Linked DNA regions of Homo sapiens. The protein of the gene in region 4 purifies or fractionates together with the protein of the main gene of each other region. This does not show direct contact. Each region holds a gene or a part of one and is shown on either strand. Other genes may lie near its edges.

What was found.
Region 1: the proteins of SSH3 (region 4) and SLC4A1AP purify together in Homo sapiens (affinity purification with mass spectrometry; one large-scale study listed by BioGRID and IntAct). This does not show direct contact.
Region 2: the proteins of SSH3 (region 4) and CALU purify together in Homo sapiens (affinity purification with mass spectrometry, with the first as the bait; one large-scale study listed by BioGRID). This does not show direct contact.
Region 3: the proteins of SSH3 (region 4) and LARS1 fractionate together in Homo sapiens (co-fractionation; one large-scale study listed by BioGRID). This does not show direct contact.
Region 5: the proteins of SSH3 (region 4) and BLTP3A purify together in Homo sapiens (affinity purification with mass spectrometry; one large-scale study listed by BioGRID and IntAct). This does not show direct contact.
Region 6: the proteins of SSH3 (region 4) and MAIP1 purify together in Homo sapiens (affinity purification with mass spectrometry, with the first as the bait; one large-scale study listed by BioGRID). This does not show direct contact.
Region 7: the proteins of SSH3 (region 4) and KIAA0232 purify together in Homo sapiens (affinity purification with mass spectrometry; 2 studies listed by BioGRID and IntAct, with this or other methods). This does not show direct contact.

What each region holds. Positions count from the first base shown.
Region 1 is NC_000002.12:27,669,888-27,674,216, reverse strand, and holds part of SLC4A1AP (kanadaptin), read right to left. Parts: intron 1-4,329.
Region 2 is NC_000007.14:128,762,911-128,767,239, reverse strand, and holds part of CALU (calumenin isoform a precursor), read right to left. Parts: intron 1-4,329. UniProt on the Homo sapiens protein: Involved in regulation of vitamin K-dependent carboxylation of multiple N-terminal glutamate residues. Seems to inhibit gamma-carboxylase GGCX. Binds 7 calcium ions with a low affinity.
Region 3 is NC_000005.10:146,151,262-146,155,590, forward strand, and holds part of LARS1 (leucine--tRNA ligase, cytoplasmic), read right to left. Parts: intron 2,720-4,329; coding exon 2,632-2,719; intron 2,550-2,631; coding exon 2,473-2,549; intron 1,967-2,472; coding exon 1,913-1,966; intron 742-1,912; coding exon 601-741; intron 1-600. UniProt on the Homo sapiens protein: Aminoacyl-tRNA synthetase that catalyzes the specific attachment of leucine to its cognate tRNA (tRNA(Leu)).
Region 4 is NC_000011.10:67,309,255-67,313,365, reverse strand, and holds the end of SSH3 (protein phosphatase Slingshot homolog 3), read right to left. Parts: intron 3,970-4,111; coding exon 3,823-3,969; intron 3,599-3,822; coding exon 3,398-3,598; intron 3,301-3,397; coding exon 3,027-3,300; intron 1,776-3,026; coding exon 1,479-1,775; 3' UTR 774-1,478; downstream 1-773. UniProt on the Homo sapiens protein: Protein phosphatase which may play a role in the regulation of actin filament dynamics. Can dephosphorylate and activate the actin binding/depolymerizing factor cofilin, which subsequently binds to actin filaments and stimulates their disassembly.
Region 5 is NC_000006.12:34,872,083-34,875,048, reverse strand, and holds part of BLTP3A (bridge-like lipid transfer protein family member 3A), read right to left. Parts: intron 2,737-2,966; coding exon 2,611-2,736; 3' UTR 1-2,610. UniProt on the Homo sapiens protein: Tube-forming lipid transport protein which probably mediates the transfer of lipids between membranes at organelle contact sites. May be involved in the retrograde traffic of vesicle clusters in the endocytic pathway to the Golgi complex.
Region 6 is NC_000002.12:199,961,584-199,965,430, reverse strand, and holds the end of MAIP1 (m-AAA protease-interacting protein 1, mitochondrial isoform 1 precursor), read right to left. Parts: intron 3,651-3,847; coding exon 3,503-3,650; intron 3,466-3,502; exon of another isoform or gene 3,324-3,465; intron 1,699-3,323; coding exon 1,620-1,698; 3' UTR 1,314-1,619; downstream 1-1,313. UniProt on the Homo sapiens protein: Promotes sorting of SMDT1/EMRE in mitochondria by ensuring its maturation.
Region 7 is NC_000004.12:6,865,895-6,870,223, reverse strand, and holds part of KIAA0232 (uncharacterized protein KIAA0232), read right to left. Parts: intron 4,033-4,329; coding exon of another isoform or gene 3,961-4,032; intron 1-3,960.

The DNA.
Region 1 (4,329 bases), on a different chromosome or scaffold from region 4:
AAATCAGTAAGACTCTTTCCCTCATATTTATATTTAGAGATGGGGCAAAGAGGCTCTCTTTACAATGAGGTTATTAAAGTGAGAGACTGTTAAGTTCAGGGCTGTAAGCAATCAGCTTTTCAGCACAGGGTAAGAATCTGTCTGCAAAGTTTAAAAATGCACTCGTGAGACAGACTCACTCACAGACACACACACACACACACACACACACACACACACACACACAACTTGTATATGTCCTGGTGATGCTGAGTCTACTTTGGTAGTACTAAGTTATGGTTTCAGAACTTGAGGTTCTGGTTCATGCAGTTGTTCCTTCACTCCTGTTCCTTCATCCTGAGCTATTCTTCCCAGCTTCTGCAGCCAATGACCTTTCCCCTAAGCTAGTTTGAATTGGACTTCTATTATTTGCAAGGAAAATAGTCCTTATTAATATAAGCCTAATTTGCAGGTTAAGATGGTACATTAAACACACATATCTAATTTCCCTCTTTCCCTAAATCCCAATAAACCATAGTAAAGAGATGTACCCACGCCTGGGCAACATAGCAAGACCTTGCCTTTACTAAAAATAAATCTAAAAAAAGTAGCTGGGCATGGTGGTGTGCACCTGTAGTCCCAGCTACTTAGGAGGCTGAGGCGGGAGGATCGCTTGAGCCCCGGAAGTTGATGCTGCAGTGAGCTGTGATCAGACCACTGCACTCCAATCTGGGCAGCATAGAGGAAAGAGAAGGAAGGAAGGGAGGAAGGAAAGAAGGAAGGAAGGAAGGAAGGGAGGGAGGGAGGGAGGGAGGGAGGGAGGGAGGGAGGGAGGGAAAGTAAGGGAAAGGAAAGGAAAAAAGAGAAGGGAGGGAAAGGAGGAAAAGAAAAAGAAAGAAAGAAAGAAAAGAAAGAGAGAGAGAGAGAGAGAGAGAAAGAAATTCATAAAGACCCAAATTTTAGAAAATTAGAAAGTAGACAGATGAGTAGAAACTAACTTAGCAGAATTTAAAAAGATAAATCCTAAACAGTGGGGAAAGCTGAGAGCCAAAGTGATTACACTGCAGAATCCTCAAACGGATCTGCAACTGGGGATGGATACTAAGGTTATGGAGGACTAAGTAAAAACTGGTTGAGAAATAGATCTTCCTCCCTGCCTACTCATCTCCTTTCCATCTGCAGTAGAAATCCAGAGGTTAATCTCTGGAAAGGGTAAAACAGAAAGCCTTTGGATTACGAGTTGACTAGTAAAGTTGAAGGCATGGGCACTATAATCTAAAAATAGTACTGTCCTGAAAACAGCTGAATGAGAAGCCACTCAGCCACCTTCTACCACTTAGCTCTAGGAATGCTGGCAGCCAGTCCTTTCGTTTCAGGCAGGAGATTGGAAGAGCACTCTCTGGGGAATCTCGCTCACAGACGAGGAAAACCAAAAGGATACTTAAATCAAGGGTTCCCCAACAAAAGGCCCACCCACATCATTCAATAGTACTGCTCAAAGTCAACAAACCCCACCTATATATTCCATGCAGAAACCCCACCTATATATTCCAAACTGTCAATCACCTTTTTCATCCCCAAATAAAAAAACTACAATGAAGAATTACATGACACCTAAGAAAAGCCTTTAACATGCAGAACAGAGACCACATAAAAAGAAAAATAACATGGAGAAAACAGAGAGGAGATATTTACAACCCATGAAACAAGAGGATATTATGTTTTAAAAAGGACAATTCAAAAACCAAAAATGAACTTTTAGAAATTAAAACCTTGGAGTCTCTGAGCCTTCTCTGGCATGAAAGACTGCCTGATTTTAAAAACTTTAAAAAAAGAGAAAGAAATTAAAACCTTGATGGCAAAATAGAGAAGACAGAAAGATAAAGGTGCAGAAATCTCTCAAGAAGGAAAAGACATACAGATGAAAAAAAGAAGAAAAAAAACTTAAATGGTCTGTCCAAGAGGTCCAATGTCTGAATAATAAAATTCCATAGAAAACAGAGGGACGAAACAATTAATGACATAATTGCAGAAAACTTCCTGAACAGCCAAGGTTTCTAGATCAAAAGGATCCAACAAGTACCCAGAAAAATGAAGAAAAATAGACCCACAGAAAAGTACTTCATAGTTTTAGAACCTTTAGAACAAAGGGAAACTCTTACAAGCTCTGGCAAGGCGGAAAAAAAAGATGACATACAATAGGATCAAAATCTGAACAGTTTAGGATTTCTCAAAAGCAACACTGAATGTAAAATAAGAAAAATTGTTTCCAACTTAGAATTGTATTCCCAGCCAAACTATTAATCAGGAGTGAAGCTACAATAATTATATTTTCAGAAGAGAAGGATTAATAAAATTTATTTCCTATACACTCTTTCTCTGAAATCTACTAGAGGATGTCCACCAAAACAAGAGAGTAGACCAAGAAAAGGAAAGATGTGAAATTCATTGAAGACTATCATCACCCATGCCCTCTAGTGTTGTACCAGCTTTTTAATCTGCTAAAAGTACAGAAGGATGTACTACTGTGCAAGGAAATAAACCAAGAAATATGAGAATATGAGAATCAAGAAACAGAAAAGTCAACCCTGGAGAAAGGACAAAGAAATCTTAAGGATGATAGGAAAGTTAAGTCCCAGGTGACAGTTCTGTAGCAGATCTGCAGAGCAATAAGCCCTGAAAGAAAAATAGTGCTCTTCAGAAAAAGTGTCTCCAAAACAAATCAGAACTGATAAATTACTTAATCATTAAGTTGTTTGATGTGGTGAGGCTACTGAAAGGTGTGGGAGGAATGAGCAAGAAATACAAAAAAGCCCCAAACACATGAAAAGCAAACGCAATTATTACCCTTAGGAAAAACAAAAAGAAATAAAACTGCTCAGTTATAACTAATATTTGCATAAGCATAATCACGTAAATACTAAATACTAATTTAGCAGAGTCGACAGGTAACGTCTAAAATAAGTGACTAAAAATATAACACCATACTCTTGTTCTTAGAAATACAGGTGTTTTTAGGCTGGGCGCAGTGGCTCACGCCTGTAATCCCAGCACTTTGGGAGGCCAAGGCAGGCGGATCATGAGGTCAGGAGTTCGACACCAGCCTGGCCAATATGGTAAAACCCTGTCTCTACTAAAAATACAAAAATTAGCTGGGTGTGGAGCACGCACCTATAGTCCCAGCTACTCAGGAGGCTGAGGCAGAAGAATCACTTGAACCCGAGAAGCAGAGGTTGCAGTGAGCCAAGATCATGCCACTGCACTCCAGTCTGGGTGACAGAGTGAGACTCCATCTCAAAAAAAAAAAAAAAAAAAGAAAAGAAAAGAAATACAGGTGTTTGTTGTTTTTTTTTAAATTTAATTAATTATTTATTTTTGAGACGGAGTCTTGCTCTGTCACCCAGGCTGCAGTGCAGTGGCGCGATCTCGGCTCAATGAAAACTCTGCCTCCTGGGTTCACGCCATTCTCCTGCCTCAGCCTCCCAAGTGGCCGGGACTACAGGCACCTGCCACCACACCCAACTGATTTTTTTTTTTGTATTTTTGGTAGAGACGGGGTTTCACCGTGTTAGCCAGGATGGTCTCGATCTCCTGACCTCGTGATCCGCCTGCCTTGGCCTCCCAAAGTGCTGGGATTACAGGCGTGAGCAACCGCGCCCGGCCAAGAAATACAGGTGTTTTTAAATGCCAGAATAAATAACTGAAAAAACTGAAAGCCTTTAGGGAAGAAGACTGAGGATGGGTAGGGCAAGGAACAAGTATATTTTATTATAAGCCTTTTGGTAGTTTTGAACCAGACATAAGTTACTTTGCAATAATAAAAATATAATATAAGCCTTATTAATAAATGATGCTCTACTCAGACTTTAAAAAAAAAAAAGCAAAATACACAATTAATGTATTGATACATATTAATGTATTGATGTAATATTCGTGATACGGCCAGGCGCAGTGGCTCATGCCTGTAATCCCAGCACTTTGGGAGGCCAAGGCGGGTGGATCACCTGAGGTCAGGAGTTCGAGACCAGCCTGGTCAACACGGTGAAACCTCGTCTCTATCAAAAATACAAAAATTGGCCAGGTGCGGTGGCTCATGCCTGTAATCCCAGCACTTTGGGAGGCCGAGGCAGGTGGATCACCTGAGGTTGGGAGTTCGAGACCAGCCTAACCAACATGGAGAAACCCCGTCTCTACTAAAAATACAAAATGAGCCAGGCATGGTGGTGCATGCCTGTAATCCCAGCTACTTGGGAGGCTGAGGCAGGAGAATCGCTTGAACCCGGGAGGCAGAGGTTGCAGTGAGGTGAGATTGCGCCATTGCACTCTAGCCTGGGCAACAAGAGTGAAACT
Region 2 (4,329 bases), on a different chromosome or scaffold from region 4:
GTCACATGAGAGCAAAGAGTTCTTATACCTTAATAAATGCAGAAATAAGAGGAGAGAGCTACCATCAAGAAAGACTTAGACTCGTTCCCTACATTTCATTTCACCCTAAGGTAGCTAATTAAACGGGACCACTTGTTTTAGAAAGGTGTAGCCAATTACTACAAAGAGTCCATTATACCAGTGGCCTTCAGTTGGGACAAGCACGCCCCTGGGGAAACAGGAACACTGTCAAGGAGTACACTGAGAAAGGTCAGTCAAGAGAGAATCAAATTCCAGATACTCAGTTCCACATATAGATTTTTCCAAAAATTGATCTTCATAAGAATGTACCTCTGGCCATCAAGGCTTTTTTCCCATCTCCCCCCTTTCACAACTGCCCTTGTCCCACTTTATAAAAGAAAGGCATATTTTCAACCATTTTGAAACTAGAGTGTAAAAAGCTCCAAGATAATGAAAAAGAAACAATTAGAAATACTAGTGTCTGGATGGGCGTGGTGGCTCACACCTGTAATTCCAGCACTTTGGGAGGCCTAGGCAGGCAGATCACCTGAGGTCGGAGTTTGAGACCAGATCACCTGAGGTCAGGAATTTGAGACCAGCCTGGCCAAAATGGCAAAACCCCATCTCTACTAAAAATACAAAAATTAGCTGAGCATGGTGGTGCGTGCCTGTAATCCCAGCTACTCGAGAGGCTGAGGCAAAAGAATCACTTGAACCCAGGAGGCAGAGGTTGCAGTGAGCCGAGATCATATCACTGCACTCTAGCCTGGGCGACAGAGCAAGACTCCGTCTCAAAAAAAAAAAAAAAAAAAAAGAAAAAGAAATACTAGTGTCAGTCTTGAGAATGCAAATGCCTGAAAAAAAATGAATAAATTCGTTTGCATGTCAAAAGGTTTTAAATTCTTTGCTTTAAAAAAAAAAACCTTGAAAAATGGCCTAATTGAGTTTTAGCTAAGGGATCATTAAACATAATTTTTGGGCTGGGTGCAGTGGCTCATGCCTGTAATCCCAGCACTTTGGGAGGCTGAGGCGGGTGGATCACTTGAGGTCAGGAGTTTGAGACCAGCATGGCCAACATGGTGAAACCCCGTCTCTACTAAAAATAAAAAATAAAATTAGCCGGGCGTGCTGGCCCACACCTGTAATCTCCAGCTACTGGGGAGGCTGAGGCAGGAGAATCGCTTGAACCCCAGAGGCAGAGGTTGCAATGAGCCGAGACCGTGCCTGTGTACTACAGCCTGGGTGAGAGAGAGAGACTCCACCTTGAAACAAACAAAACCCATAATTTTTGATGATAGATTACATGATTTCTGGCATGTAACTCAAAAGGAGTTCCAAGAACTAAGCAATATTGCTATGACAAATCTTCCATCAACTTATTTACTAATGTAAACAAGGTCTGTTAGTACTTCCTCTAAAAAATAAAAATTAGGAATTGGTGCTGAATCCCATTTCACTCTAGGGATAAGTAATTGTCATCCATGGATATGAAACTATTTGAATAAAAATGTGTCAAAGAAATGCATTTAAAAATATATAAACATAAAACGTCTGTAATAAATGTTATTTTGTTCAATTGTGTATTAATAATTGTAATAGTAACTTAACACAGAAGACTCTAAAAACACTTAAGAGCCATATCACAGAACACCATTTTCCATATTTCAATTTACATACACAATGTTCTTGCAAATAAGAATGTCAAAGTGACTAAGGCTTCAAGATAAAATATGTCAGAATATAATTCTGTTGAGGAAGTAAACTGCAAATGAATCTAACAAATAGAAGGCTGACTTGTGAGTTTGAGATCAGCCTGGACAACATGGCAAAATCCCTACAAGAAATACAAAAATTAGCCAGGCATGGCAGCATGCACCTACAGTCCCAGCTACTCGGGAGGCTGAGGCAGGAGGATGGCTTGAGCCTAGCAGATCGAGGCTGCAATGAACCATGATCATGCCACTGCACTCCAGCCTAGGTGACAGAGTGAGACCCTGTCTCAAAAAGAAAAAGAAAAAAAAGAAACAGGAGGTCGGGTGGCTGATGTCTGTAATCCCAGCACTTTGGGAGGCCAAGGCAGGTAGAGCTCTTGAGCCCAGGATTTCCAGACCAGCCTGGGCAATGTAGGGAGACCCATGTCTATAAGAATAATAATAAAAAAAATCAGCTGGGTGTGGTGGTGCTCTTCTGTGGTCCCAGCTGAGGTGAGAGGATCACTTGATCTCCCCACCTTGGAGATCGAGGCTGCTGTGATTGTGCCACTGCACACCAACATGGGCAACAGAATGAGACTCTTGTCTTTTTAAAAAAGAAGAAGAAGAAGAAACAGGATGCGTGTAAAATGTCCAAGTTGGTTAACAGTTTATTCATTTATTTTTTTAAGACAATATCATGTGGTGACTGATAAGTAGTATAAATATCCCCAAATCCCTATAAATTTAAACAAAAAAAAGGGCAATTAAGTGATGGTCACATTGTTGCTAACCAAACGCCATAACTAAAAAAAAAAAAGTACCAAAGAAACATTTCCTTTTTAACTATTATGAAATGTAAAAAATTACGGATATTTTCTTATATACCCACAATGCCACTTTCATATTTTACAAAATCAATTCCTTGGTATCATCTAATACCCAGACTGAATTTAAATTTCTTGATTATCTTTTTAAAGTTGTCGTGTCCAAATTATTCATATGAAAGACGGCAGGTAAGAAGTTGCTATGGTATCTTGTATTTAAATTTTATAGATTTCTTTCCGAATTACTTTCAAAATGTCAATGCTTATCACCAACAGAGATTATTCTTTTTTCTTCTGAGACAGGGTCTTGCTCTGTTGCCCAGGCTGGAGTGCAGTGGTACAATAACGGTGCACTGCAACCTCAAACCCTCAGGCTCAAGTGATCCTCCTGAGTTGCTGGGACTACAGGCACACGCCACCATGCCTGGCTAATTTTTTCTTTTTTTTTGTATTTTTTGTAGAGACAGGGTTGCGCCATGTTGTCCAGGTTGTTCTCAAACTCCTGGGCTCAAGTGATTCACCTGCCTCAGCCTCCCAAAGTTCTGGGATTACAGGAATGAGCTACGGCATCCGGCCCAACAGAGACTATTCTTTACAACTGTTTAAATTTCTTAATTAAATATTTCAGATGCCAACTTTAAAACACATAAGGGAATGCTGTTGGTCAAATTCTTTCAGGAGTTATTTAAGTGAACAAGTCTGAAAATGCTTGAGTTATACGACATCTAAGTTAAGTGTACCTGCATTGCATGTAAGGTATGGGAAAACACCTAAAGAGAAATCTAAATAGTTCCTGCAAGTTCTAAGCAAAGGTAATTATTTAGTCAGTGCTGCCATTTTCCTGACCTTGAGGGTTAAGGGTAGAAGTACTCCTCTGTCTTAAACTCACAAGAGAAATTCCTCACAGCAGGACTTGCCAATTTTTTCCCATGCTACAGCACATTCAGAAAATGTAGTTTGTACGGTCCACTGGATCAGGTTCCTGCCCTAGCTGTCCTGAAAGCCAAGAAGACTTACTCACAGGATACAGATTGGAAAGTTCTGAATTAGGAAATAGACACATGCTTAAAAGATATGGTTTTAAAGGAAGCTAGAATACACAATACACTACAACGTAAGCGCATTTTAAAGCTAGGTGACCATGATAAACTATTTGAATTTCTATTTTTATTTATTTTACTTTATTTTTTTGAGACAGAGTCTTGCTCTGTCGCCCAGGCTGGAGTGCAGTGGCGCGATCTCGGCTCACTGCAACCTCCGCCTCCTGGGTTCAAGCGATTCTCCTGCCTCAGCCTCCTGAGTAGCTGGGATTACACAGGCACATGCCACCACACCTGGCTAATTTTTATATTTTTAGTAGAGACGGGGTTTCACCAGGTTGGTCAGGCTGGTGTCTAACTCCTGACCTTGTGATCCGCCCACCTCAGCCTCCCAAAGTGTTGGGATTACAGGCATGAGCCACCATGCTCGGCCGAATTTCTATTTTTAAAAGACTCAGTCTATTTGATGATTTGAAGGTATTATTAATTTTCTTGGGTTGACATTATCTTTAAAAAAATGTTTTTAGAAACACATATATATTTTAGACATATATACCTCAATGTTTACAGATGAAATGACATAATGATTGGGATTTACTTCAAAGTAAGAAGGAAGCAAGGAAGTGGATGTGGCTGAGAAAAAACTGGCTGTAAGTTGATTGTTGTTGAGGTTAGGCATAGGTACATGGGGATTCATTATACTATTCTAATTTGGGGGCAGGTGCAGTGGCTCACACTTGTAATCCCAGCACTTTGGGAGGCTAAGGTGGT
Region 3 (4,329 bases), on a different chromosome or scaffold from region 4:
AGGAAAGCTAAACTAAAAAACATTCTTGTTGATGTCCTTAAAAATCTTCATTTGACTCTGAAGCACCTAATAACTTGTTTGGATTTTTATGTTCTCTAGCCTAGCCTTCTTTCCATGGAAATATAAACCACATTAACATATGCACAATTAGGAGAAAAGAATGGTTCAGAACATGTTTGTTGAACTCACCTGGCATTTAGTAGACATTAATAAATAAATTAATGGACTGAATAAAACTGCTTATCTAAAATATGAACTCCTTAACTAAAAGAGCAAAAGAAGGGACCAGGTATTCTCCATTCAATAAATCTTTGAAGTTTACTGCATAATAATATGAACTAATTTGAAATATCTTGTCAAGAAATTCACTCCATAGAGATTCCTAGAGGGCACGAAAAAGACAATTTCTGAAAATGCTTTTAGGCAAAGGACATGATAAAAACAAAAATTAGAAATTTGGAAATAGAATACATTCTCATATTAAGCTCTCAAATCAATGTATAGCTGAAACTATGTTAAATTTTTCTACATTTTTTCTAATTAAGAAAATCACAGAGCATGGAGTAAAGCAAATAAAAACTAAAAAAAATTATTACTTACACCCTCATAAAATCCTTTTAGATATATCTTCTCCTTTGCTTCTGCAAGTTTTTCCCGGTCATTCTGGCTCTGAATTTTCAACTCATCACAAATGGTTACAGCAGAAAGATTTCCAAAACCTGGGATTTCAATGACTGGCACCTGCAGCAAACAGCAATCAGGAACGTGTTCACACTGACTGGACACACAGCTCTGTAGGGCACAAGTCCTTTTGCCTCTAATGTCCAATTAAGTCATTTCAGATTGTATATGTCATTACGACACTGCCACACATTAAGTAATCACAGAGTGACTAACTTCCAGATGTAAATTTGTCCTTCTACTCTCCACAGGAACCACCCATACTCTGTGTACCAACACCCCCAATGCCCTTCCCCCACCACACACACCTTTCCCAACACTCTATCCTCCACTGGCATATAATTACCTAAGTAATTCATACTGAAACTAGCAAAATGATGTAAACCAGGGGTTCCCAACCCCAAGGATGTGGACCGGTACCAGTCCATGGCATTAGGAACCAGGCTGCACAGCAGGAGGTGAGGAACGGGCGAGCATCACCCCCTGAGCTTCACCTCCTGTCAGATCATGGGTGGCATTAGATTCTCATAGAAGCACGAACCCTATTGTGAACTGTGCATGGAGGGATCTAGGTTGCTTGCTCCTTATGAGAATCTAATGCCTGATGATCTAAGGTGGCACAGTTTCATGCCAAAACCATTCCCCTACCACACCCTGCTGGTCCATGGAAAAATTGTCTTCCACAAAACCAGTCCCTGGTGCCAAAAAGGTTGGGGCCTGCTGATGTAAACAACTAGATTCATGGATGGTTGTGCTTTTGGTTTATATTAATTCCTCTGGATCTTTCATGAAATGAAAATCATTTGCTAGTAATTTAAAAGTTTTTCTTCTATAGATACTAACATGAAAATACAAGAAACATAAAACAGAGTTGTACAGGACTTTGTTAAAGTTATTATGGTTACATATAAACATTCATGAAAAGGGCAAAATTTTATCTTTAGAAGCCAGGAAATTGATCACACTAGCAAAGCAAGCTACTATAAAATTGGTGATGCTAAAAAGCTATTTGTTCCAGAACTGCAGGTGCCAGGTGGTAAGAAAATGCTTGTTAGTTTTCCTTTTGCTCTTATCTACCATAGCAGGTATCAAATTAAAGTGAGTAAATCCTTAAGCAAACTCTCTTTTTCATACTCCACCAATTAATTTTGTTATAAGGAAAACATGTTAGCTCTTCTTTTTCTCTGATAAAGAGATGGATGTGAATATTCTGAATTATCTATGTACTCACCGGCTCAAATGGCAAGACCATGTCATCTCTAATTCCATATTTTGCTCGTAAGGCCTACAGAAAAATTTGCAAGTTAACACTAATGATCAACACTTTACTGGGAGAATCATTGAGAGAAGCAATCTCCAAAGTTTCTTAAAAGTTTCTTTAAAGTTTCTATTTGTTCTCCTCTCCATAGAGAGCAATTTTCTAACTTTGCCAAATATCTCAAAAGGGATCTGTAACCTTCAAAAATTTAATAGCTAAAGTTATAGTGAATAGCCTAAATGAAACCACACAACCAAAAGCAAAAATGTACATAGACATACACATATCACTTAAATTGAGGTTCATATGCCAGATTTCAATGAAAATGTGAATATCAGAAAGCTTTTTCAAAATTCTGTGAACATATTTAAAATTCAAACCACAGAAAATATATTAACATCAAGAAACAAGTTAGAGATAGCAGTTTAAAGATAAATGCATAGCTTTTTAGCCTAGTCCCACAGCGTAGTTCAGCAGCACCTAAGCAATGAGATGGTGAGGACGAAATACAAACATGAAACTCAGATACTTACTTGCTTTTTCTTCAAGTCTCTGAGGGCAGCAATATCATCAGGGGAGTCGGAAGGAACACTTGTAACCACACCAGTGCCTTAGAAAACAAAGTGTGGAATTAATAACTAGAACCAAAATGTGTTTATCAAAATATTTCTAGAAATAAATAAACTCTTTACCTTTATCCTCCTTAATAGTTAGCATTGGGAGAACATAGATCACCTTGTATGATGTTAAAGGTGCAGAAAGTGATGCACCAAGAATTTCCTGCATAAGAAAAAAATCAATATAAAAGGTGAAGTAATTCATTGTGACCATTAGAATTAAAACTATGTTAATATTTTAAGCCCTGAGAAGCTAGTAATCAAAAATATATGGAAATAAATTCAAGAGCTATATTGTACAATATGGTGACTATAGGAAATAACAATGTATTTTATACTTGAAAATTGCTGTGTAGATTTTTTTAAGAGACAGAGCCTTGCTATGTTGCCAAGGCTAGAGTGTAGAGGCTATTCACAGGTGCTATCATAGCATTCTACAGGCTCAAGCTCCTGGGCTCAGGCAAGCCTCCTGAGGTCCCAGCCTCCCAAGTAGCTGGCTCTACAGGTGCATACCACTGCACCTGATTTAAATTTTAACTCTTCTCACCACAGAAAATGGTAAGTACGTAAGGTATAAATTTGTTAATTACCTCAATTTAGCCATTTCACAATGTATATATATTTCAAAACATATTGCGTACCATAAATACAATTTCTGTCAATTAAAAAATGAATACAGGCTGAGCGCGGTGGCTAACGCCTGTAAACCCAGCACTTTGGGATGCTGAGGCAGGCAGATTGCCTGAGCTTAGGAGTTCGCGACCAGCCTGGGCAACATGGTGAAACCCCGTCTCTACTAAAATACAAAAAATTAGCCAGGCGTGGTGGCATGCGCCTGTAGTCCCAGCTATTTGGAAGGCTGAGGCGGGAGAATTGCTTGAACCCGAGAGGTGGAGGTTGTAGTGAGCCAAGATCGTGCCACTGCACTCCAGCCTGGGTGACAGAGGGAGACCCCGTCTCAAAAAATAAAGAAAAGAATATAAATAAAATACATATGAAGTAAAACAAAACACATTATTTTATACCTACTAGAGGAAAAATAATTTTTTTTTTGAGATGGAGTTCTGCTCTTGTTACTCAAGCTGGAGTGCAATGGCATGATCTCGGCTCACTGCAACCTCCGCCTCCCAGGTTCCAGCGATTCCTGCCTCAGCCTCCCATGTAGCTGGGATTACAGGCATGCACCACCACGCCTGGCTAATTTCTGTATTTTTAGTAGAGACAGGGTTTCACCATGTTGGCCAGGCTGGTCTTGAACTCCTGACCCCAGGTGATCCACGCACCTCTGCCTCCCAAAGTGCTGGCATTACAGGCATGAGCCACCGTGCCCGTCCCGGAAAAATAATTTTTAATAATTATAATAACTAAATCTGTCAATATTATGACATGAGTACACTAATACATTGTTTGTGACATTGTACTCCTTGAAGAAAATATAGGAATCCACAGCAAAAGCCACAAAATGTTCATGTAACTCAGACTCAACAACAACTAATTATTTTTTCTTAAACAAGTCTACCCAATGCTGAGTTAATTATACTAGGAAAGCCTGGAAACAACTAAAGCTTTCAATGATAGAAAAAATGATTTAACAAAATATGTTACAAGAACAAGAATGGGTACTATACATCTATTTAAAATAGTAGTTATGAAGACAAAGTAAAAGGATAGTTCTAATTTCACTTGAAAAAATCCAAAAGATTAAGCAATTTTAGACCCAAATTCTCAGATGGCAACAAAGAATTTGCAGCTTCTTGCTCTAGCTAAGGAACA
Region 4 (4,111 bases):
AGGAAGTGACAAAGATACAACCACTTAGCTAGGTGTGCCTGTGGTCCCAGCTACTCAGGAGGCTGAAGTGAGAGGGTCTCTTCAGCCTGGGAATTCAAGGCTGCACTGAGGCATGATCGTGCCGCTGCACTCCAGCCTGGGCAACAGAACCAGACTCTGTCTCAAAAAAAGAAAAAAAAAGATGGAATGACTAACTCTTCTTGGACACTAAAGTTGAGCAGAAGGAACCCCTGGGCAGGAGGGGAAGTGTCACCAAGGGTCCTTCTTCCCAGGCCGCAATAGCCTGGCTTGGAAAGTCAGGCCCTTTGCTTTGTAGCAGGAGGAAGGTGATTCTTGGGACCCAAAACATGCCAGAGAACCTGGCGCCGAGTGTCCCAAGGAGGCTTCGCTTTTGGAACAGGCTTGGTCCTGTCCAGGTAGGCACTTCCTCATGAGTAACCCCTTCCAGCTCTCACAGTGGAGCCACATGCCTGCTGCCCGCTGACGACTTCTTCCCTTGCCCGACCTGTCTGAGCGGGTGGGTGTGAGCAGGTCATATTTACCAGGCCCTGCCCCAGGAGATGGGGAGATAGCACTGACTTCCTCTCTTCTCTTACCCAATCTTCCTCCCACGCCACGCCCAAACACGGCACTCCCCCAAATAGGTCTGTCACGAGCCACCTTGGAATTGTGAGGAGACTGCTGGGAGGAAGGGGCGGCCACCTTCCCCAGCCAGCAGAGAAGGGTCTGACTGCAACACAGATGGCTTCATCGTCACATTGAAAATAACCAAATATGAAAATGTGTTTTATTTCTCAGTACAAAGCCAGATACTGTAAGGCTATGAAAAACTGACTAGCCAGAGGCCAGAAAGGACAAAAAGAAGACTATCTCTGGCCTGGTGCCCTGTGATCTGGCGTGGTGTCACAGGAGGTCTGGGGACAGCAGCAAAGACCTGGACCGGTGGAGGTGGATGAGGGAAGCGATCTGCCAGCCCTTCCAGCCTCCCGCGGCTGGGGCCTGAGGATCCTGCCTGCCTTTGGGGGCCACTGGTTGCCTGGCCTGGCTGGTTCCAGGAATGAACTGGGAGAGGACAGGAGGTGCAGGGAGGGGGCGGGGGTGGGAGGCGTGACCCTTTTTGCACGGGAAGCTCTGTTTTCATTCCGTGCCACAGGTGAGTGTGCAGGGCTAGAGTTGAGAATGAAACTAGGGTGCTGTTGCCCCCAAAGGTACCTTCAGTCCCTCTACCACATCCCAGTTAGAAAGTCTTGAGCCCTTGGACAGGCAGACATGGGCCTGGGACTTAAGGCTGTAGGAGGTGAGGCTGTAGTGACAGGGGTGGGAGGTGAGGCCGTAGTGACAGGGGTGGGAGGTGAGGCTGTAGTGACGGGTATGGGGCGGAGCTGAGAGGAATGTGTGCGGCAACAGACGTGAGGGTGTTTCTCCAAGGAGTTGTGGATCCTCTTCAGTGTCAGGGGAGCGTGGGCATGTGTGAGGGCTCAGGCCTCGCCCTCCTCTCCACTGTCATGCACGCTGGCCTGTCTCACCACCTTCCGGAACCTGGGCGTAGAGGAAATGCAGGGCTCTCCCTGCCCCTGCCCCTGCCCCTGCTCCTGCTCCTGGAAGGCCTGGGTCCGGTTGGCCACCACGGCACTGCCCTGGAGGGTAACCACTGACTGGCGGGACTTCAGGGCAGGCTGAGGCCCCCTGTCCACCTGCTGGCCTCCCTTGGTCCTTGCAAGCTGTGGGAAGGGCTGCAGAGGCTCTTCATGTGAAGACTCGTGGGAAGAGAAGACCTGGACAGGTGTGAGGATACGGAAGCCATGGGAGGCCTTTCTGGGGCAGGGGTGCCCAAGCACAGAGCCGGGAAGATCTGGGGCAGGGGTGCCAAGCACAGAGCCAGGAGGAGGCGAGGGCCGGAATGTTTGTGGCACGCACGCCAAAAGCCAAGCTGTCCACAGCCACGCTTCCTCGGGAGGGAGGACAACACCCCAGCCCTGCTGCCCCGCTCCTTGAACCCTACCTGCTTGTAGCTTCCTTCTGGCCCCCAGAAGCCCTCCTCAGCTCCCTGGAGACCCAGGCCTCCCTGCCCTCCTCCCCTCCTATGCTTTCTCTGCCTTTGCGTAGGCAGCCGGCAGGTGAAACCCGTGCCGGCACCAGCCCCTGAGCTGGGCTGGGTGGATGCGTGCGTCCGGTGCTGGGTGAGGACCTCTTGCCTTTAGCAACGCCCACACCCGCCCATCAACCCACCACGCCTCCCTATCCTTCCCCACCCACACCTCCTCCAGGAAGCCTCTCCCAAATGTTCCTGCCCTCAGTGGATGCTCCTTCCTCCAAGTCAGCCATTTGGCCTTGAGTCCCAGACAGGGCCTGGCTCCCAGGCTTAGGCTTGTGCCCGCAGCACTGAGCATCAAGGGTGCTGACTTAGGCAGGACTTGGGCGGCGTGAGTGCGCAGACTCCTCCCCACCCCATCCTTTGAGGTGCTGCTCCTCAGACCAGGGAGGGGCTTCAGAGATTAATTTAGCCTCCCCACCATGGGGTTAGAGATCGCCCCCAGGGCCTGCAGGGGCCTGTGGAGCTCATGGCCTGGGGAGGCAGCCCTGCCCCTGAGACAGCTAGTCCTGTGGTCAGGCTGGAACCTGCCCGCGATCGAGGCTGGGGCTGGCTCACCCAGGAGCCTTGGAAACAGGCACTGCTTCCTGCCCTGCCCCCGTGACCCCTCTCCAGCCTGTGCCTACAGTGCCTCCGCCTGCCCTCACTGGATCTCAGCTGCTCTCAGGGGCCCAGGACGTGGCTGGTCCCCATCTTCAGGGGTATTCATGGGACAGGCTGGAGACGCCGGGTGCTAAGAGATACTGGGCTGACTGTGAAGGAGGCTGGGACCAGGCCCCCTGGGTCCTCCCAGGACACCCTGCATGGGCGGGCCAGACTTAGCCCGGGTACGCCCTGCTCAGGTCTACAGTCAAACGCCCATCCTGGTCTTTCCCCATCTCCCTCCTTATGGCCCCCACCCCTGCAAGCTGAGCTCCCCCAGCCCCAGCCTCACCTCTGGCATGTCACTGGTCTCTGAGGTGCTCTCCAGCTCCAAGGAGGGCTCCAGAAGACTGATGGACCTCATGACCCCTCGGAGGTTTATACGTGGCCGTGGCCCAGGCTCTTCTTTCGGGGCTGCCTGGCTCTCTTCCATGCCTACAACCTTCTCCTCCCCACCACCCTCAGGTTCTGGCGGAAGAGGTGGGAATGGTGTAGAGACTTCAGGGGCTGGGTGCTCCTCTGGGGAGACCCCACCCACTTTCTGCTCCCAGACATGGCTCTGGCGGCTGTGAGGAGGTGGCCCTGAGTCAGCTCTGAGTGACCCAGCAGCCACCCCCAGCAAACCCACCTACTCACCCCCTGCCACTCGCTCCCATCCCATACCTGGCCGTCAGGATGCCCTGGTAGATCTGCAGCTGGCGCAGGAAGCCAGGGTTGGGGCGGGCGATGGGCCGGAGCTCCTGCACGTGGCGCAGGGCCTGCTCCAGGCTGCATTCGTACTGCTTCATGGCATAGGCCAGCACTGTGGCCGCTGAGCGGCTGACGCCCATCTTGCAGTGGACCAGCACGTGGGTGCCCTGTGCTCTGTGGAAGCAGGCCAGGTTCAGCACCCTCCCCTCACCATGAAGGATCCCGCCTCCTGCAGGGGAGGGCAGGTGAAGGGCTCACAACCAACTGAGAGTAGAGAAGGAGGGAAGGACACTGAGGGCTGGAAGGAATGGCACAGCTGATGGCAGAGTGGGCAGGAGGAGGGCACCGGAGGCCGCTTGAAGCCACAGTGGGGCAGGCAGCAAAGCCAGGAGACCGACCTTGCAGCCTCAATGAAGCGGTGCGTCTCCTTCCAGTGCGGCAGCAGCTGGGCCGACTCCTCATCCCAGAGGCGCACATTGTGGTAGGTGAAGCGCTCAGGGTAGAAGTTGTCAATCTCCCGGGCCATGTTCAAGATGTGGGTGACCCTGTCCCAGAGGGCCCAAGGCCAGGCTGATGTGGGCAGAGGTACCAGGCCCACTGGCAATCGGACCTGGCAGCCCCTGGGCCTCGCTTTAGCTCTGAGTTTCAAGTCAGATGGAGGCAGCAGTGACAGTGGGAGGAGAAGTG
Region 5 (2,966 bases), on a different chromosome or scaffold from region 4:
ATAGAGCCCTAGAGCTAGTAGTACAGGACCGGGTCCTTGCTCTTGATTGGATATTTGATCTAACTCCCCTCTGCTTTCATCTTTGCAGGATAGAGTCTATATTTTAAAAATGTGTCCTCATATGGATATACCTCCATCCCCTGATAATTTTGGCTGTTCTCTGGACCTTTCCTCCCTTTATCATATATCTTGTAAATAAGGTCACTAGAAACACAGATAATCCGATCAAGACATATCCATGGTTTTGTATAAAGTGCTGTTCTCTGTTATCTCCAAAAGCCCTTCCTGATGATGCCCACAGGGCAATTAGGCTTTTGGCCACAGCAGCACATTGATCTCTCCTCCCCCTCAGCAATGCTTGTTTCTTTCCTGAGTTCTAACAGTGTTCAGGCATATCAGTTGATAATTCTTCCATAAATACATTTCCTTATATTATGTTGAACCTCACCTGTCAGTTTTCTGAGTATTCTCAGCCCTGCTTATTAGTAACCCTTCTGTGGTTTTGTGTTTGTTTGTTTGTTGTGAGACGGAGTCTCACTCTGTTGACAGGCTGGAGTGCAATGGCGCTATCTCGGCTCACTGCAACCTCTGCCTCCCGGGTTCAAGCGATTCTCCTGCTTCAGCCTCCCGAGTGGCTGGAACTACAGGCACCCACCACCACACCCAGCTAATTTTTGTATTTTTAGTGGAAACAAAGTTTCACCATGTTGGCCAGGATGGTCTCGATCTCCTGAACTCGTGATCTCCCCGCCTCGGCCTCCCAAAGTGCTGGGATTACAGGCGTGAGCCGCTGTGCCCGACCGGTTTTGTGTTTTTTAAACCTCTTCTAGATTACCTTTCACTGCCTGGAAGTAGTGACATTTGATTTCACTGTAAAATCCTACTTTCAGGTCATTTATAAAAATTTTAAATAAGGTTGAACCAAGCATCAAGCCTTAGGTAACTTCCCATTAGCATCTTCTCCAGAAAGATGTTTCTTTGTTCCTAAGTCTCTATTTCTTAAGCATGAAAAATTCCCACCATCCCATAGTAACTGGTGTTTCAAAAATTGCCTTAGTAAAGAAACTTAACAAAAGTCTGAACAAATTGGGTCCTGTTCCTTGGTGAATACATTTTTTTTTTCTAGTCAAATGAAGTGTTGAGAGTGGAGAAGGAACAAAGAAATCTATGATTGGTTGTGATCAATTAGTTGTAAACACCACTGCAATTACATGTTTCTTTTTATCCTCATCAAACTAGAGTATGCAAGTCAAGCATAATTTCCCATAGAAGAAACCTTTTTACCTTTCCTTCAGTATGGAAAGGTGAATGGTCGAGACTTTAGTAACATCACTAAGTTACTATTTTACCATCTTGCCAAGTAAAGGTAAGTTAGCTGATGAACGTCTGTCCAATCAACACAGCTTCAAGTGTATCACAGGGCAGTATGAATGAAGGGATGGTGTTGGAGAAGAATTCAAAGGAAAGAAAGGGGGAAATAGCTCTCTTATAGGGCAGGGGGCAAAACCTAGCTGGGATGAGGGATTTTTGTGTTTTTTTCACTTGAGTCAAAATACATGAGTTTTAAAAGCCACAGTGATGGAGGGAAGTGAGAGGCAACAGGTTGAGTTGTTTATGTAAAAGTTTAAAACATATATTCAGCTCCCAAACCACCAAGGGCTGAGGAGAGAACTGGTAAGGTCACAGAGCTGGGAAAGCAGATGTGCCAGGGACCCCAGGGAGACAGAAGAGCCACTCAGCACAGCTGGGAAAGACAAGCAGGACTCCAGGCGGACAACAGGGGGCTCAGAAGCAAGCTCCCCCACTGACCCCTGGCATATCATGCCACCAACCTAGCTCAGCGTCAGAAATTTTTTCTTGATTTAAATTTCAAGTAAGTTGTATTATAGAGGGGAAAGATTAAATGACTGAGCCACTACTGTTATTTACTTTCTACCACAGCATCACAATGATGAAAGTATAACAGAAAGGAAGCTTAACCTGGAAAAATCTGATTGTGTTATCAGCCAAATTGCTATGAGCTTGGTTCCTTTTCCCAAAAAGGCAGAGTCCAGGTCTCCCTTATTCTTGTGCCTCTCCTGCCCCCTTCCCCCACACTCCTCTGCTGGACTATTTCCTGTTCCACTCCACTACCATGGCCAAAGCTCAGGTCATGGACTTTTCAGGTCTGCTATGGGAAGCTCTGGGACATGGAATCTTTGGTGGCTCTGTGGGTGACCGAGGAGGTGGGTACTTTTGCTTGTTCACACAGGCCTGTGAAGGAAGCAAATGTCCCTGCCATGAAACCATGAGGTGAAATGGCCCTACAGTGTTGAGAAGATTCCACCTAGTACACAGAGGACCAAAAGGCTTTATACAGGCAAGACATGATGCTTGTGCCACACACAGGGCAAGCCCCAGTTTCCTGGGATACAATCATGCTTTGCCCTTGTCCTCAGTCCAAGTAAGAACAGCTAGTGGAAAGCACACCCACACAAGTGAAGTGAGTGCTCCCCAGTCCCTCTGGCATCCGTAGTGACTTATTCAGCACTGGACAGTGCCCTCTGTCCTAGGTGGTGCTATTGCTGGTGATAGCCTCTCTCCTTGGCACAGATGGCTGAGCCACTGGTTTCAGAGCTCAAAGAAGGGGTTATATTTCCTAATCTCCTGAAGAAGTTTTTCTTTATCCTGGTTGGCATTGGCCAAGGCTTGTTTAGTTTCTATAAGTTCTTTTTGTAGGATAGGCAGTTCTTTCACCTGAGGAACAATAAGTAGTTAACAGTTAAATACGGTAATACCATCTTGCAACAACCGCCAGTAAAGGGAACAGGGAGGAAGAGTTCAAGGAGAAAAATCCACAAGTTATGTCAATGATTAAGATAACCATATCTTTTCTAAGACCTTGATTCCCTCTTCATAGTTCATTGGCAGGTGCAGTATGTCCTCAGCAACCATTCGTCTCCAGCTCCTGACATTTATCCTCTAGT
Region 6 (3,847 bases), on a different chromosome or scaffold from region 4:
CATGTCCATTGGCAATCAATTGTCTCATCTTTTCTCTGAGTCTTCTCACTTTTTGAAGATTTCTGCTGAATATCAAATTCTAGGTAAACCGGTTATTTTTTCAGCACTTTTAAGATAGCATGCCAAGGTCTCTAACTTGCTGTTTAAGAAAAATAGGTAGCTATTCTTATCTTGGTTTCTCTGCATGAATGTACCTTTATTTTTTTCCTCCAGCTGCTTTTGCAACTTTCTCTGGTTTTCAACAATTTCATTATGATGTACCTTGATCAGACTTTTTTCTCTGTGTTACCTTGTTTGTTGAATTTCTTGTAATCTGTGGGCTTATAGTTTTCATCAACTAGGACACTTTTCAGCCATTATTTCTTAACATACTATTTTTGTTTCCACTACTCCAACTTCTAGGACACAAAATACAAGTATATTAGAATAGTTGATATTATCCCATAGGTGGCTAAGACACTGTCCTGTTTTTTTCTCTCTCTTTGTATCTTAGCATGCTTTTAAATTCACTGATTTTCAGTTCTGTAGAGACCTATCTGCTATAATTTCATCTATTCCTTCTTACCTAGCTAGTGACCAAAGAGGCCAAATAGCAGCAGTGATTAAAAAATAAATGAATAAATCTTACACATACTTAAAATAAAGGTATAAGGCCAGGCACAGTGGCTCACGCCTGTAATCTCGGCACTTTGGGAGGCCGAGACGGGCGGATTGCCTGAGGTCAGGAGTTCGAGACCAGCCTGGCTAACATGGTGAAACCCTGTCTCTACTAAAAATACAAAAAAAAATTAGCTGGGCATGGTGGTGCACACCTGTAGTCCCAGCTACAAGGGAGGCTGAGGCAGGAGAATTGCTTCAACCCAGGAGGTGGAGGTTGCAGTGAACTGAGATCATACCACTATACTCCAGCCTGGGCAACAGAGGGAGACTCCGTCAAAAAAAAAAGTGTAAATGTATTAGCCACAAATAAAATATTTAAGAACTATTAATTTAGAAATGTGTAAGTAGGCTGGGTGCAGTGGCTCATGCCTATAATCCTAGCTCTTTGGGAGGCCGAGGCAGAACCACTTGAGGAGTTCAAGACCAGCTGGGCAACATAGTGAAATCTCTATAAAAATTTTTTAAAATTAGCCAGCCATGCTGGTGGATGCCTGTAGTCCCAGCTACTCTGAAGGCTGAGGCAGGGGGATCGCTCAAGCCCAGGAGCTCGACGTTACAGTGAACTATGATCATGCCACTGGACTTCATCCAGGGAGACAGAGCAAGACCCTGTTTCTCAAACAATTTAAAAAATATATAAAGAAATTTGTAAGTAGTTTTTTCAATACCTTCTTTATTATGTCTATAAAATTATATGTAGCATTGGAAATGTTATTGAATATGACACCAACAACGTGCTATTGTATTTTTTAAATTTTGACTTCTTTTAAAGAAGGTGATAACAATCTGTGGAAAATGCTTTTACTGTATCATGCCAATATACTGCAAGGAGTATTTCAAAATAATATAAAAGTAATTCACAGACTTAGATTAAGTGAAGATCAAATGACCCCAAAATTTTTCTTCCTTAGTTTTTCACAGCAACTGCTAAAGTCCATAAGCTGATTTTTCCAAGAAAATTATTCTAATAATTTTGAGTGTTCAATCCGTGCAATGGTCCAGTCAGGCTTTACTCCTTGTGTGAACTCCCTCTGAAACCTAGGAAAGACATTGCAAATAATGTAAATCTTACATCAGTCCAAGTATGTGTTAGATAACTATGTAATTTGCAAGTGTATATTTAGAAGAATTTTTGGCAACAAGATAATGGTTAATATTAAATCAAAATCAAAACAAAAAAAAGTTTAACCTACCCATTCAATCACAATAAATATACCCACAAAATTGAAGTACATTCTCAAGTAATGTAAGTATTTTTAATGGACTAATCTATATTCAACATCTACCAGCCCCTAAGAGAAACTTGGATATATGTGTTATATAAATAACACATATAGCTAGTATGTGTTAAATACTAGCTATAACACATGCCTAATATGAGGACAGATAAACTGGACTCTGGTGATGCAAACAGCACTTTAAATACATAACCTAGGATACAGGCAAAAAGCTATTTTTCAAATAGCACTGTTACCAATTTAGGAATAAATAGTGGAATTTAGTTTACATACATTAAATCAATCTTGAAAATAACAATGTTTATGAAGTACCCATAGTCTTAGTAAGAAACATCAGAAAAGATAAAGTTTAGTATTGACGACAGTGCTCTTTAAAAATTATTTCTTAACAGGCAATTCAGTAGATTTAAATTAAGTATTTAAATATATAGAATATTTTGGGTAATTACAAATAAAGCAAAATTTAAAAAAACACATTTCTTTTAAGAAGAGCAAAAAAAAAATGAGGATATAATTCTCTTTTACCTTAGTAAAACAGAATACATTTTATTTCTTAGGTCATTTTTGGGGTTTGTTATTTTGAAGCAGATTTGTGTAACTCTGGCAACATATTTTTTTAATAAATGTTAAATTATATCTTCACTGACTTGCTCCAGCAGTTCACTGTTCTAGATTTTATTCGCATAAAAATACAATATAATGTCTCTTTTACGTAACTTGCTAACTTCCTACTATACAGTATGTGCTTAAGGGCAGTATCCCTTCAACTTTGTATCTGAACCTCTACCAGAGCATGTGGGCACACAGATGACCAACAGATGTCTAGTGAATAAATTGTTCATGTACCAATTATGGCAGATTTTATTTTCCAAAAATGACCACAACCATATCTCCCCTCCCATGTGCTCTTCTGCTATGTGGCCTTGCTGGTTTTTGCCCCAAAAAATGGGGGAGTCTTTCTACACCCTTTAAACTATACAGATCCTTTGACTGCTTTGACAAGTAGACTATGGCAGAACTGATGTTCTAATTCTGGGCATAGCCCTTTACTGGTTTAGCAGCTTCCATTTTCTGCCTCCTAGAATTCAACCACTATATGAAAGATATGACTAGTCTGAAACTACCACAAGTCCAAGCCACAAAGAGTGGCCCTGGAGAATACAGAGTCATGCAGAAGCCAAGGAGTACCAAGGTGCCACCCATGCGAGTTAAGAAGTCACTGTGGAAATGAATCCTCCAGCTCCTGCCACTCGTGTTGATGCCAGGTGAAGCAGAGAAAACCCCCTAACTGAGCCTATCCAAAATTTCTGAGCAGTGAAATAGCAGGCAAAGTCAATGGCTGTTTGAAGCCAATGAATTTGGGGGTAGTTTGTTAAGCAGCAATAGACAGCTAAAACATCATTTAATTAAATTCAGCAACTTTACCTCTTTCTAATTTCTTAACTCTCCTGTTTCATATCCAGTGTGTCTTTCTGACCTTTTCTCTTCATAAATAACTTGTCAAATTTCAATTCTTTTCTTCCTAAAGATCTCTTAGTTTTCATACCTTCACACTACCTTCCATTTTCTGAAGAAAGGAAACAATGAAATCTGATTAAACTTACTCATAGCTTGCACTAAGAAGTTGTTTAGTTTCCACATTCTGATTCCCCAACTTAACCTGGAATACACTGGCTCCTCTTAAAGTTTCACTGGGGATGTTGGCACTGGTTAGATACCAAAAGCACATCAGGATGTTAACAAACTTCCTTCCTTAGAGAAAAAACATATACACACATACGAATACAAATCAAAATAATCTATCATCCATATAAACAAAATGAAATCAGAAATTGGCAGCAGTTATACAGTTGTTACAGGTCAAATTTTGTGCTTATTCTGATGTGACTTAAAATACTTGTATTGATACTATTTTATTTTTAGAAAATTGTCTTAGGGTTTATGGCATA
Region 7 (4,329 bases), on a different chromosome or scaffold from region 4:
GCTTGGCCAGTGAGAACTGGATAGTGTGGCCAATGGCAGACAGACAACAGCTGTCATCAGTGACCAAGAAGAGTCCTTGTAGTGTGGTCAATAGAAGACCTGTGGCAGCTTCAGTCACCATGTATACCTGGCATGCTGGCAGTCAGGGCAACCCCCTTCAGTGTGCCTTCCTCACTGTGCCTGAGAGAGTGAGCCTGCCCCAGCTCGCCCAGGGTGAGGCTTGGCCACTGCATCTTTCTACCACCCACATCCCCTAATACTGTGTTCTCAGTAGACATCTGCTTAGTGGAGAGGCCTGTGAACACTGCACCCATCTTCATTGTTTTAAAAGACATTTCACTACGTGTTCAAGTTTAAAATCTAAAGTGTTTTAGAAACAAATTTTTCATCAGTTTCCTAACAGGATTTTGTTATGCTTTTAACTTAATTATTTATGGGTCTAAAACTGTTCAATTCCGTAATGAGTGTCTGTTATGTAACTAAAAGGGAAACACTTCAAACTTTTGTTTTCACTTAACTTTTCGGAAACACTCCTAAGTCAGAAACTGAAGAAGAATTGTACTGTCTACCCACAGCAGTCAGTTAACCTTTGCTAATTTCTCCTACAACTTATCCTAACAATAAAAATTGGTACTGCTATTAGATAAACAGATGCTAGGGCCAGGGGAATGGACAGGGCTGGGCTTCCCGCAAACAAGGTGGCACCACGCAAGGCCTGCAGTTCTTCCAAGGTGGCTAACAGCACCTGTCATGCAATTCCCTGCACTCTAAGACCTCTTCAGAAAGGCCTTGCCTGTCCTGTGAGATTACTTAGTGCTACTCAGGGGGAGCAAGGAAGGTGCCCCAGCCAGAACTCTCTCCATCACCTCCCTAAGGCGCTATTGAAGATAAGTGGATTTAGAGGTTAACAGGTTCTTATTTGAGAAAGAAAAAGCTCTTTGCAGGAATGATCAGTTTAAATACACTGCTTATCTTTTCATCCTTTCTTGAGGATTAAGATCAAGAAAGGGAGTGAGTTCATGGTGGGGGATGGGACAGGTCAGGGAAAGCAGGCTAGAGGGGCCAGGAACCTGGGAGCAGGGGCAGCATGAACCAAGACGAGTTTAGATCCCAGCAGAACCCGACTGTAAGCTTCCTGAGGGGCGGGACCACGTCTTCCTCATCTTTGCATTCCCAAGTATGGGGCCCCGCACAAAGCAGATACTCAGTGTCTGCTGACGTGAAGAAAAGTTTCCGCCAGGCCAACAGTCTCTGACTATCTCATACATCATTTCTTCTCTCTCTTGCTGAAACCACTGTGAAGGGCACACCAGTTTCTACCATAAATTTGGGAGTCTTTTTTCTGCATCCTCCATTTGAATGTCAATTCCTATGGCAGGGACTTATTTGTCCCGTTTTATACTAAACATATTCAAGGAATATGCATCTTGTTATGACATCTCTCCACTCATTTATAACTTTTAGGCTGGATCATGCTATATTCATCTAATACATCATCGAATGTATTAATTCAACTTCTGCTGTGGCTGGGAATGAAAAGAATGAAGAGACAATGGAGGAAGCTGAAAGCGGATCAGAAGGTCGCTGTCATGGACAGGCAGGCACAGCAGCGGCCTCAGTGCTGCCCTCCCTTTCCTGCCAGGCATCCTCTCAGCTCACTCTCTTACCTCTAAGTATTTCCTTAAATTGCACCTTGGCGAGGAAGCCTGCTCTCACACCGCCCATAACACAGCAAACTCCTGCCATCACTCCCAAACCCAATGCCCCTCGTCCAGCGATCCTCCTTTCCAACAGCATTTATATTGTAACACACTATATAACTTAACATGTTTATTGTCAGCTCCCCAAGGTGGGATGTGACTCCACCAGCACCAAGAGCTTTGTTACTTATTCCCAGCACCAAGAATAGTACCTGGCCGAGCAGGTACATAAGAAATACTTGATGAATGAATGAAACAGTGAAAAGAAGACATAAACTTAATCCAAAAAGCCTAACCAGAAATGTTTTTAGCAACAGATGTAAAATTGAGAAATTCTTTAGAAGGTGGAAGCTGGGTGAAGGAAACAAAGGCTTCACAGCTGTAAATTCTCACAGAATACTCCTAGTTTGGGTAAAGAGAAAGGTGCTTGGTTTTAGTTTTACTCTGGGAATCTTGCCCCTTTGCCACAATCAGCTCTCATTTGGGTCACACCAGGAAAAGCAAGACTTCCATGTACCTTGTTCTCTGGGAAGGAAGAAATGAAACATCAATGAAGAGATACTGAGTGCAACAGAGACAAACAAGAGACACAGAACTGCTGGTCTAAGTCTTCCTCAGTTCACAGAGGTGCAGAGTGGTGGAAAATGCTTTGCCTGTCCCCCACACTGGGATCTGGGGCAGCTGTCTCACCTCTCAGAGCCTATGTGTCTTTAGAAGTGGGGAAAATAACCTACCGCATGAGGTCTACATGGGCATCCAGTAGGATAGTGGTGACAGAAGCCTCTACATAGATGTGCCGGGTGGCACATCACCAGCATGACCCCTGACCCTCACTCCTTCTTTACTCATCAGAGCCTTCCTGTCCCTCCAGACCTGCTGACCTCCACAGCACAGTGAGCTCCTCTCCTGAGTGGACTGAAATTCCCTGAAGACAGCAAGTAAGCCTTTTGCTTATTTTCTGTGCCTCAAGGTGCTTGGTACTAAGTTGGCAACCAAAGAAACGACAAGAACATTTTCACCACAAATGTATGTCCAGATACCAAGGCACACTGTGCTTCATCTGTGCTACTCTTAACCGTATGGCTTATACTCCAGAGACCGTGAGATCCCTGTTCACAGCTGCCCTGCACACATCAGCAGATTCAAATCTCTTTACCCTTGCTTCTGCTGTTCCTTCTGCCTGGACTGCCCTGCCTCCGTCCTTCTACTCTGGACACTCAGATATGCTCAAGAAACCTTCCTCAACCTTCACAGGCTGGAAGGGTTCTCCTGCAGGTTCCCACAGCATTCTGTGCTCCCCTCCACCATTCTACCTACAGCACCTAAAACTGCATTGGTCAAATGCCCTAAAACATAAAGAACTGACTAGGTAGATTACGGTATATCCATACGATGGAATAGTGTGCAGAAAATAAAAAAAGGAAGGGTGATTACAATAAAGTACCATTTCAGCAAAAAGAAAAAATAGGAAGAAATACATGTGAACATTTACTTGTTAATACGCGCAAAAAATATCCTTGGAGAATACATCAGAACTCACACTAGTGGTTGCCGCTGGGGAGGAAACCTTTCACTGTGTATGTACACATACACTTGTAACTTCTGAATTTGAACCATATGAATAAATTACCTATTTCAGTTAAAATAAGTAACATGGTACAAGTTGGTCATCTTCACTACGCTGAATTCTGTATGGGCAAGGACAAAGTCTTATTCATCCAGGACACCTACTTTAGCAACAGGCATGTAAACAGGTACTCACTAAATGTTTGCTGAATTGAACTAAACTTTTGAAAATAATCATATTATTTTCATGCTCTTAGACACCAGTTCTATCGGAAATCCTACATTTTCATCATCTAAGTCTGAAACAGATGGGGTTCTACTGATCTTTAAACAGGCCTCCCAGATTGCTTCCTGAAAAGACTGTACTGACTCAGGAAAAGGGCCGGAAGCACATCCTCTTAAAAGCACCTTTCAGACTGACCAAGCAATGTGACAGAACAGAAAGATACAGGTTCTAGTCCCAGGCTGGCCCCAAACTGTCCCTTCAGGTCACTCAGCCTCCTGCACATCTCAGATGAATCTATGAAGTAAGCTTCAACCTGGCTTCTAAAGTATAACAATGCTGCCGAGAGAGCAGTGCTGACAACATCTAAACTATCAGACAATCCCAAAATGTCCTCTGGGAATTTTTTTGGCAGCTAAGACCTTTCAAGGAAACCCGGAATTCTGATAACACATAAATACATCAACATACTAGAAAGCGAAGGAATATGGTAGTGGTATGATGTAGAATCTTGCTTCTTTCCTCTTTTTCTTTCTTCCCAATCTGGAACCAGGTGAAATACAAAGTACATAAAGGAATATTTAAGGATGAAAAATGGGGCAATAAACAAACAGATAAAGGCTAACAATATTATTGGGTTTTTTCTTAGCAGTGTTTCAATGGGATTAAATTCATCCTCTACGGGTCTCTAGGTAGCTGATTAGAGCAGTGCCTCTCAAGTCGCCTGGGGGCTTCCTAGAATCACAGGCAAGCAGTCCCACACCTGGGCACTCTGATGCGACAAATAAGTAAGGCATGGTCCACAGCCACAAGGAGCTTATAGTCCAGGATATAAATAAC